Regions from separate parts of the Homo sapiens genome. Here region 2 is linked to region 1. Evidence: fine-mapped expression QTL. A gene starts in region 1. The other region holds a variant in brackets. All regions are shown on one strand. Distances are between the middles of the regions.

Region 1 (5,382 bases):
ACAAATCAGACCAGTAGGCAGACCCAAGCCAGCTAGTAAACCCCTATGTTCAGATTATAGGTCTCAAATTCTATTCATTAGATCTTAAGCTGCCTCTCATTGCCAGCATATATCTCATCCTGCACCACCAAAAGAACAATCTGGTTACTCATGCTATATCACATTAATATGCAAGTTCATCACTTCAGCAAGAAAATCACAAACAAGTGGTTCATTCATGACTCATTTTATTCATAACAATCTCAAACCTGTCACCCAAAAATCAGCTTTTACAGCAACCGCTAAATGAAGTAAACATATTCACATCCGAATTCATTCATTGGTGTCCAAAAAAACTCAATATAAACAAACTGAGAGAAGATACAGTTAGTCCACTAAATGAGGATTGTTGAGAAAATGCATCATTATTTTGTAGAGAAGAAGCTTGAGTCAAGAGCAAACACAATGAATTTACACAAGTGATGACCCTTGGTTTTTATGGCTGCATTCAATAACTGCACATTAGATCGAGTCTTAAAATGAAAACTGTTTCGTGTAAAAGAGGAAAGTTGCATCCTTAGGAAAGAAACTGTTTTTATTGCAAAATTCCTGGATAATGACAAGAAAATGCTAAGATGTTACAGTAGAAAATGGATACAATTTTTTCCACCTAGGCTGAATAACTTATCAAAATAGAAAACTCCATTTTCCCTAAGGTTGGTTTATAATTAGAAATTAGATTCCTCAATAATTCAATGACCGAAATCTTTATTAAAGTCAAATGACCTTCCTAATTAAATTTTCTCCTTAATATGTAAGCTCTGCTAGGCAGGTGTTATCTCTACATATAATTAAGACTTTACATATGAATTAAATGACCTTTTTCCTCTATGGTCATCCTTTTCTTTGATTTGGCGTTCTAACAGTCAATTAGTGGTAAAACTTTTTAAAGTACAACAAATTACTAATGCATTCTGGTACGTGCTCTGATTTTTATACTTGTCCCTATTTTTTATTCCATCTTGAAAAATATTCAAACTTAAATATTTTACTCTTCTACATTTCTTTTTTCAAATTATTCCAAAAGAACATAGCTAGTGTGGGGAGATGTGTACAATTTTATTATAACATTAGGAAGAATGTTAGAATTTCAAAACCTAGAATGTAGAATTGTGGTATGTGCATACAACTGACATTAAGTTCAAAAGCTCTGACCACAAACAATGCACTTGCATACAATATAGGCTCATCCAAGTAAATATATGGGAGATGCATAAAAATATGGTAATTTCATTTGAAATACTTACAGTTTTAATCTTTAAGTATTTGTTTAAAAAACAAAAATAGTTAAATAACTCTTAAGGTGTCATGACAAAAATGCCCTGGCTTTGGAAAGCCAAAAATATGTTACCAAAACTCACTCTTTGGATGCCACTTTATATCTCGTAAATTTCATTGGCAACAAATCAAAGAAAGTAACTGTTATATGTTTGAAATCCATCACTTCACCAAAAGTCTAAGATGACGTAGGCAAAATGCTTTACCTTCACTTTGTTCATTAATCAAAAAAAATATAAAAATGAGGTGTAGTGATTAAGTGAATTACTCAAGGATACAAGCCAATTGTCAGCAATTTTACTTTGTTAGGCTTCTTATCTTTCTAGTTCATACAGGAAAAAAAATATCATCTGAGAGATGGAATATCATTTGAGAGAAAGGAATATGTACTTTATGAACACTAACATTTCCAAAGGAAATGTGGGAATATTCAGCTCTAAATTCTACACATCACCAAGCACTAACAAAAAAAGAAAAAAGGAACAGAAACAGGAACCTTCTGCATCCCAAGTCACGAATGAGCCAAATAAAAAGAATAAAGTACAATCTCGCCAGCATTTTTTCTTGGATACTGTACATTTCTACCTGGTTTTCTATTACTAGGAAACAGATTTCAGTTTTCATAATGCTTTTAAATGGGCTTTTCTTAGCAAATGTCTGCACTCTTCAGGCAAGGCCATTAAGGTAACTTAATCCCTCATGAATTGCTCAGTGGAAGAAATGCTGATTCCTAATTCGAAAATTAATTCCTTAGCTGTTTCTGTATTAAGAGTCATGAGGAAAACCACAGCTACAATTTAGATTCAGAATGTTGTCTTGAAGGCTAGCAAGACAAATAGGAGCTTAGAGAACGGAAGATGATGCTGGGGGAGGGGGCGCAGAGAGAGTGCGAGAAAGATGCTGGTCAGTTCCGAGATGATGCAGGAATGACATGGCACCTGGACAACATAAGTCCACGTCCACCCCCTGCCAAGTCTGTGCCTCGGGCTCTCTCACAATTGCCTGAAGCTGTGAATAGGTGCACACGCAAACACACCACCTTTTATTCTTCGACTCTCCGGGAGGAGAATGGTGGGGAAGCGTCTCTGGATAAAGCTTCACCACAACAAACGACGTCTTTCTCCTCGCACCCCGCCTCCCCAGCTAGAGGCAGGCAACAGTAGACAGCTGAGAGGAACGAGAACCCTGGCGAGAAGGAAAGCATCTCCACCTAAGGGAGGGGGCTCGGGGGATAAAGCCCCACAGCCTCACAGGGAGCCTCACGGAGGGCGACAGGAAAAGGAGGGGGGTGTTGAGCTGGGAAAACAGGAGAGGGGCACTGGGAAGCTTTCGGCGCGCTACGCAGGGAGGCTGCCCGGGGCTGGCGCGCACCGAGGGGGTGGGGGTCGAGCCCGGGGCGGACCCCTCCCCCGACTCCCCGACTGGAGGACAGGGAGGAAATGGCTTTGTATCGCACGATGAAAGGCAGGCAGGAGGGCCACCAGGCGGGGGGTGGCAGGGGACGGAGGATGCCCAGAGCTGGAGGACCCCGCCCGCCCCACGGACACCGCCACTCTGCCCCCCATTCCACTCTGCCCCCCATTCCACCGCAGCGCCTGGTCCATCCACCCTCTGGCTCCCGCTGCCCGTCCACGTTCCAACGGCCCGCAGCGGGGTCGCCCCACTGCCGCATCCTTACTCCGCGCCCTGCGCGCTTACCTGCCCACGAAGTTCTCGAGCACCGAGCTCTTGCCGGCGCTCTGGCCGCCCACCACGGCGATCTGCGGCAGCTCCAGCAGGCAGCTCTGTCCCAGCGCCGAAAACGCGTCCTGCAGACGGTTCACCAGCGGGATCAGCTCCTCCATCTCCCGGTTCCCCATCTTGCCCGAGGGGCCGGCGACCAGCTGGTCCCTGCTCGCCTCTACGACCTGACAGGGAGTAGGGGCCGCGCTGCCCTGGCTGCTGCTGCTGCGCCGGGCTCAGCCAGCCAGGTCCTGGCGCAGACGTCGGAGCCCGCCGCCAGCCCGCCGCTTGGCTCTGACAGCTAACGACCCGCAGCGCGCCTGCGCGGGCGGGCAGGGGCGTGGCCTATCTCCGCGACGCCCCGCCCCCGCCCCGCGGCTGCCCCGCCCCGGGCTTCCCATCGGACCACCAGGCCAGGCGCGCACGCACTGCAGCCCAGCTGCGGCCAGATGCCACGGCCTCTGCGTTCTGTGGCCAAGGCTCAGAGGCCAAGTTACAGCGCCGGGTCAGGAAATGGCATGAAATCAGCAGCAGCGGCAGCGTTGTTCTCTTTCAGCGGCTACCAAGCCAAAGCCCAGTGGAAAGCACTATCGCCGCTAACACCACCACACGATCACCAGCAACAGCAGCACCGCCGCCGCCACCACCGGGGCACCGCTGCCAGACTACACTTCCCGAAAGGAAATCTCCTCTGTCACGCCCTTCTCCAGAATCCGCGATGACTCCTCCCAGGGTGGCAGGCCTGTTGGAGTCTAAATTCTTCAATGTGACATCCATCTAAGGCCCTGAGTGGTCTGACCTTACTTAATTCTTCATCTGTAATGACTCGTCCTCCCCAGCCCCGCATAAGCACAGGTAGAGTCTGTAGGGTTTACCGCCCCGATACACCCCTTTAATCACTCTGGCCTGTGAGACTCCTCATGCCATTTGCCCTCCCGGTCTATCTCCTTCTACCGGATCTATCCAGAACCAGGTACCCTGGACGCATTCTGTGAAATTTAGCACATTGAGAAGTGACTGTGTGTGGGGTCCTGTGCCTGATGATCGGGACACAAAGATAAATGGCCATGCTTCTCTTAGCCTCCACAGACGGTTCCTTTTTAGTCTGCTCCTCAAATACTGATGCTTCGCAGGGTTTCATATATGGGCATTTTCTTGTCTAATGTTTGTCCTCTGCCTGAGGACTTTCCCATAGCTTTAACTCTGAATCAAGGCTGGCGACTACAGAAATTTACATTGCTAGACCCTGTCTCTCTTCTGCAACTTAGACTGTACTCCAAGAGGAGCCCAGAATACTACCTGAGTGTCCTACAAGTACTACAGACTCAATTTATTCAAAACTGAAGTCATCTTTTGTAATCTCAGCATTTAATGTACAGTTCCTTCTAACTCTAAAAAGACATATTAAAATGTTCATAATGTCAAAAAACCTGAAAACAACCCAAATGTCTATCAACAGGTGAATGAATAAACAAACGTGGTATATATATATAGTGAAATAATCTCTGCCACAAAAAAGACTTTTGATATAGCAACAATCTCAGATACATTATGTAGAATGAAAAAGGCCAAAGACCATATTGGTTTGATTTCATGTATGTGAAGTTCTACAACCAGCAAAGCTATTCTATGGTAATAGAAATCGGAACTGTGGTTGTCTTTGAGGAGTGGAGATTGACTGTAGGAGGCATGAGGAAACTTTCTGGAGTGATGGAAATGTCCCATGTCTTGACTGGGATGTGGGCATACATTTGTCAAAACTCCTCAAACTAAACTTTTAAGTGATGTGCATTTTACTGTACATTACATCTCAACTTTTTTTTAAAGCAGCAGAAAAAGACAAATAAAACTGAATGCATCTCCACTGAAGTGGATCTCTATTAGAATGTCTGCCCAGGAAACCTTTTCTAAGAAACACTCCATCCAATGCATGGTTGTAGCCAGAGCAGTCATGAAGATAGAAAGGCATGAAGAAAAACTGAGCCCTGGCCATAGCTGTGTGCACCAGATTGGGCACCTGACTTGAGCTTTACCAATCAAAGCCTTTTCCCAGGAGTATGCAATTGAGAGAGAGATTGGCCTTTGTCTGAGTGACTGAACTATAAGTGAGGAATAACATTGGCAACTATGGTTAGTAAGATTTCACCAGTAGAAGGGAAGTGCTCATCTTCAGAGAAAGAGAAAAGTGAAAAGACACAAGGAGAGGAGCACAGGGAAAGAAGAGGGAAGATCCGGATAGTACCTGTATCCTCAATCTTGTTCATGTCTGATGTCCAACTGTAATCCTGTCCTCAGTTCCTTGTACAACCTCCCCGCCAATAAACTTATAATAAATTCTCCTCT
Region 2 (5,382 bases), 580 kb before region 1:
TTGGGTAAAGTTGATAACAGTATACTAAAACTCAGATAGCTGCTTCAGTACTGAAGTCAGAACAGTTCTCCCTGGAAAGACAACCAAACTTTTCTCTTATTGTAGCACTACATTGTAATTGCTTATTTAGCTATTTTGTAAGCTACTTTTATTCTGTTACTTCTCTGGTATTCCCAGGGTCCAGGACATTATCATGAATTCAAGAAATGTTTGATGCATAAATAAAGGAATGAAAATATATAAGGAATATTATGTTTACTAAAGGCATAATAGTTTGGCTCTTCCTGACTATCCTGAGTTATGATCAACTCTGAAAAAGGGAGTAATTTTTCAAGTCTATTAAACATAGCAGGGTGGAGGTGGAGGTAAGAAGAGTTGGGGAAAGGTATATTATGAAACATAGAAATACTATTTACTAAATACATATTAACAAATCTTAGCATAATTTAATTTTACTCCAGGCTGCCCCCCATCCCTTTCCCCTGCCCTCTTTTTTCTTGCCTATAGAATGTAAGGAAGGGAACACACTTCTTTGTTAAGGAAAACTGAGTAAGGTTGTCATTTCATTCTGTTATGACTGGAGTTTTTCCTTCTCATCATTCATCAGGTCAATTTAAGTTTTATACATCTAAACTGTGTAACACTGCATATAAAAATAAGTCCATGTTTAAGACAAAGTGGAAAAGTACCAAACACTTTTAAAAAATGAATTGAAGAAAACCTTCTCTTTGACAACTTCGGTTTTCATTTGGGGAGGTGGTATGAAATCATCTAGGTACATTTTTGTCTATTGGGATGAAGAATGCTATCCACTAAGAATATTGATTTAAAAATCAAATGCCTGGACTGGAGGGGAAGGAAAGGACAAAAGACTGCATGCTATGTGCTATTTTACATCAAGTCACCTCCTTCCTGCTATACATGAGCTTCAGTTGATGCCTTGGTTTGGAGCCTTTGAACTTTCTTAGTTATCACTGATTTTAAATGGTAGTCACTGGACCGGGGATACAATTAAAATAATGTAACATGCCATATGAACATTTTAAACCAAGAAACTGATTTTTCATTTTTGAGTGGAGAACTCAGTCCTTAAAAAAATTTGTGGTCCGAAGAAACAGCATTACTAATGAGGACTCTCCCTTTTACAACTGGGGGTTCCTGCCCACATCTTCCAAATACCTCCTTTGCCAGGGCTTGCCTAGGTCAGATGTGAAGTAAATAGAACTGATGAATGATTTTTTTGACTCTCTTGTCATGTAGTTTTCTGTCATCTTAATATGCTGAAGGGGAGCACATTCAGAAGTGATCTCATTTGAGAAGGACTACTTTCAAGTTCTATTTTAGGCCACATAAATTTTCAAAAAATAAAATTCTGAATTAAATCTTAAACCTTTGGGAAGGCTTCAGATCACATATTTGGTGGAATGTACTATATTACCTAAATAATAAACATTTTATTTGGATACATCTTTGGGATGCTTGTTAAAAAATTATAGATTAAAATTTTAGTGTTAGAATTACCATTTGAGGATAGAGGAATAAAAAGTTCTCTATTCCTTCAAACTTATATGGACTCCATTTTTCTAGTGCTTTACTGACATCATGAAGAGTCTTTCTTCTCAAGGTGGCAACATTTCCTTGCCTTGTACTTTTATTCTGAATGATGTGGTTTTTCGCCCTTACATTTGCCATATAGAATTTATGAGGTTTATGTGTTTTTGCTCTACAGTTTCTTCTATGATCTTACATTTTATCTCCCTTAAGAGTGTTTAGAAAAACAATAATAGGAAAAAATATTTTGGTGCAATAATAAGTAAAAATGGGATTCCTGGAGGTGGATTGGAATTATTTAGTCTTCTGTGTTTTTTCTAGACATCCATAAATTTTCTTTTTCTTTTTATTCTTCTATTGGACAGAAATTTCACTTGAAGGTAGATTATTAGTCTCTACCAAAGACCGTCTTAAATCACAATGCTTTAAGAACTTTTGAATTAAGCTTCTTAGAGGAACACATAATATATTCACCTTACCTTGTTTTAGTTGAAACAAATTCTTTTTTAAATTTAGGTCTTCTTTAAAAAAAGAAACAGAACACACTTCATTTTTATATAGAATAAACTTTGTTTTTATTATACACATGGATGAAAAATAAAAGTTTTTATGTACATACGACATATAGTGCAAATGAAAAGCTTTTAAATACCATGGATAGACATGTTGTTGGAAACAAAAGGAGATGAATGATGGGGGTTAGGATGGTCGTCCTGGAACTGC[A/C]GGAGGGGGTCGCCTAGTAAAAACAAAACAAAACAAAACAAAATAACAAAAAGAAAGACACAGATGCAGAGGAAGAAAACAATGTTTAAATTATAAAATAAACCCAAATAATAGCATGCAAAAATAGCTCACAAAAGTCAAATTCAAATCACACACAAAAACATGCAGACATGCAAAGGAAATGAAGGGACATCACATAGCTAAGTTAGCAGTTCCCAGGACTTTTCCTGGCTACTAGCAATGTTCTAGGTATGAGCCATTTGAGCTCACTCAAAAAGCTTCTTATTTTGCACCATGGAATGATAAATCCATGCACTCTTATTCAGGAGAACTGGGACTAGTCCCCGAGCCAAATACCTTTATAACTTGTATATTTGATTTTCAACCCTGATTTTGTGAAACTCAGTTATTTCCAAAGATTTCAATGAATGTTGTGAAATCTCCATAGGGGGAGAGGGAGTTGATGTAGCCAATGGCAGGTTAAATTTTTTTTAAGTGAGGTAAATTAGAAGGTGTCAAGAGATCAAATGAGCAATGTAATCACAATGCAGAGAATGCCAGAGGTTGATCTCAGAAAAAAAGGATTTGTAAATAAGAATTTGCTCCAGGTGAGTAGTCCTGGTGTGTAATAGCCTGGATTCAGGCCTAGGGAAACTAGGAGGCAAGGTCTGGTCCATGGCAACCCCAGGATTTTCTAGGATTTCCCTCTGTCTAAGAGCTAGGTATAACTGTATTTCTGATTTGTTCTGAAGTGGGCCCAAGGTAAATGAAATCTGGTCTGCTGGATCTTTCTCCATTTCCCTAGGCTGGCTTGCATTTCATCAGACCTATGGATAATGAAATGAGGGTCCAAGTTGTGCTTCATTTGACATCAGCCTTTCTTGTGTTCAGCAGGGAGATGATTTGCAGCTAGAGAAAATACAGTAAACCCTACATTGCAATGAACAGCTTTGTAAGTAGGAAAACAGCAGGCCAAATAAAGCTTTCCCTCTGGTTTTTGGCAGAAGTCTACACTTTAATTTCCCCTTTCTAACCAAACCATTAATGAACTCAACATTATAGGAAGCTGTAGAATGGTGAGATTATCTCAAGACCCTACTCTCTTTGACTTCTTATCCAGGTGTTCAACAACGCTCACTTCCATCTTATTCTTGTTACACATCTTATTCTTGCTTGTGAGTGGAGCAATGAAGTCTATAAAAAAAAAACAAAAACAAAAACAGAAAAACTTCTTTTTCATTTTCTATGAGATGTTAGTGGAGCCAAACTGACTGGTGTATTTCTGGGCAGTGGTAAAAAATGATCTTAGCTTCCCCAAAGTCCAAAATCAATTTTCCTTCAGTCCAGTTTAAGCTGACTACACTAAAGAGGCCTCCCATCCATTTAAATGATGGAGAACTTGTTATTGGTACCTAACCTTTCAACTTCAGGGCCGGGGCAGGGGCTAGGGGGTCTGCAAGGCTTTAGCTTTAGAGATCCAGGTAATGGGTATCCCTGGTGTTTTCATGAAGAAAGTGTAATTAAATTTCTGTCGAGCTCAATGAGATTTATCACCTGCCCAGAAAACAGAAACTATTTTCGAGTTCTGAAGGGGCTTTAGAACACTTTAATGACCTCAGCAGGGTGGGGAGGTGGGCCATTAAACTGAACAGCAAGTCCACAGTGCTGAAGCGACATTCTGTTAGCATATGCCAAAACACTTTCCTGTTTGAGCTAGTTTGGTGTTCTGATCCAGAAACAGGATCAGAAACTTTATGTCTTGGAATATATTCCACTGACAGCTAGAATGTTTGCTTGAAACATCAGGGTGACATTTATATCCTCAGACAGCTTTTTCTTTTCATCTTCACTTTACTGTATCTACCCTTCCTGTCATTGCTGAAAAAGCATTGTTGTTGATGATACCATTTACTGGGTCAAAATTAGTTCTTTTAAGGATATGGGCAGTTGGGGTTTTTGCTCTTTCTTTTGCATAATTTTTATATGACTTACACAGTGCCGAAATGCTTAAAGGCAAGTGCTGCAAATATTTGGGCTTTTTACATGTAGAGCTACAAAGGTACCTCATACAATTGCCACTCCCATATGAAAGTTGCAGTACTAAATTGGAATACTGAGTTGCTAACAAATTCTTAAGCTCACCATCCTAGTATTCAACATATAAGCAAATTTACCTAATCAAGACTATAATTTCAGGTTATATTTTCTTAAGCATTCTGAAAAATAACTTCAAAGCAGCATGTTTTGGCCAAATCAGGTAAAGGAGATTGGAAAGCTGTATCTGGAACATGGGTGTAATTTATATATAAAAGACTCAATTATTAACAAGAATGATGAATTACCCTCATTCTTTTGGCTCTATGTCAACGCTGAAATTTGGTCTTATGGTGACATTCCTCTGGCCAGATCTCTGAGGAGGTCTTCCTTATAGCTTTTTTCTTTTCTGTTAAAATCTCACAAAAAAGGCCAGGTGCAGTGGCTCATGCCTGTAATCCCAGCACTTTGGGAAGCTGAGGTGGGCGGATCACTTGAGGTCAGGAGTTCGAGACCAGCCTGGCCAATGTGGTGAAATGCCGTCTCTACTAAAAATGCAAAAATTAGCCAGGCATGGTGGCACACGCCTGTAATCCTAGCTACTGGGGAGGCTGAGGCATAAGAATCACTTGAACTTGGGAGGTGGAAGTTGCAGTGAGCCAAGATCACACCACTGCATTGCAGCCTGGGCAACAGAGTGAGACTCTGTCTCAAAAAAAAAAAAAAAAAAAAAAACTCACAAAAAATGCTCTGTTTGCTTTCTTTGCCCATCCTTTAGGTAAGTTAATAACCCAGAGCAGTGAGTGAGCCTGAAGGCTTGGGAAAGGGAGGAAAGAAAGGCAATAGGAATAGTCTTCAACATTCTTCTCTGATGATTAATCTTAGATCAACCTGGATGCCTTCCTTCACAATAATCTCATGGAGGTAATTTAAAGAATCCCTTTTTTGGAGAGTCAGAGAGAAAAGGTAAGGTATAAAATTATCTGAATCCTTCATAAGTCTCATTAAGACTCAATGCATGTATGTCTCTAAACTGCTTTTGTGCTACCTGTTCCAATGTGACTTTCCTCCTTA

Evidence for each region.
Region 2: its variant is fine-mapped to the expression of DNM3 in whole blood (INTERVAL, PIP above 0.99).

The regions. Positions count from the first base shown.
Region 1 is chr1:171,839,451-171,844,832 of GRCh38, reverse strand. DNM3 (dynamin 3) reads right to left here and starts at 3,335. Exons shown (of 21, transcript NM_015569.5): 1 at 3,016-3,335. The coding sequence starts at 3,176. RefSeq lists an enhancer at 2,911-3,090 and a silencer at 3,291-3,520.
Region 2 is chr1:172,415,186-172,420,567 of GRCh38, reverse strand. All of the region lies in intron 1 of LOC102724528 (a long non-coding RNA gene), which reads left to right. It also overlaps a transcript of DNM3 not described here. Among named protein-coding and RNA genes, the nearest start is that of C1orf105, 2.8 kb to the left of the region's middle. The variant A/C (reference allele first, on the strand shown) is at 2,275.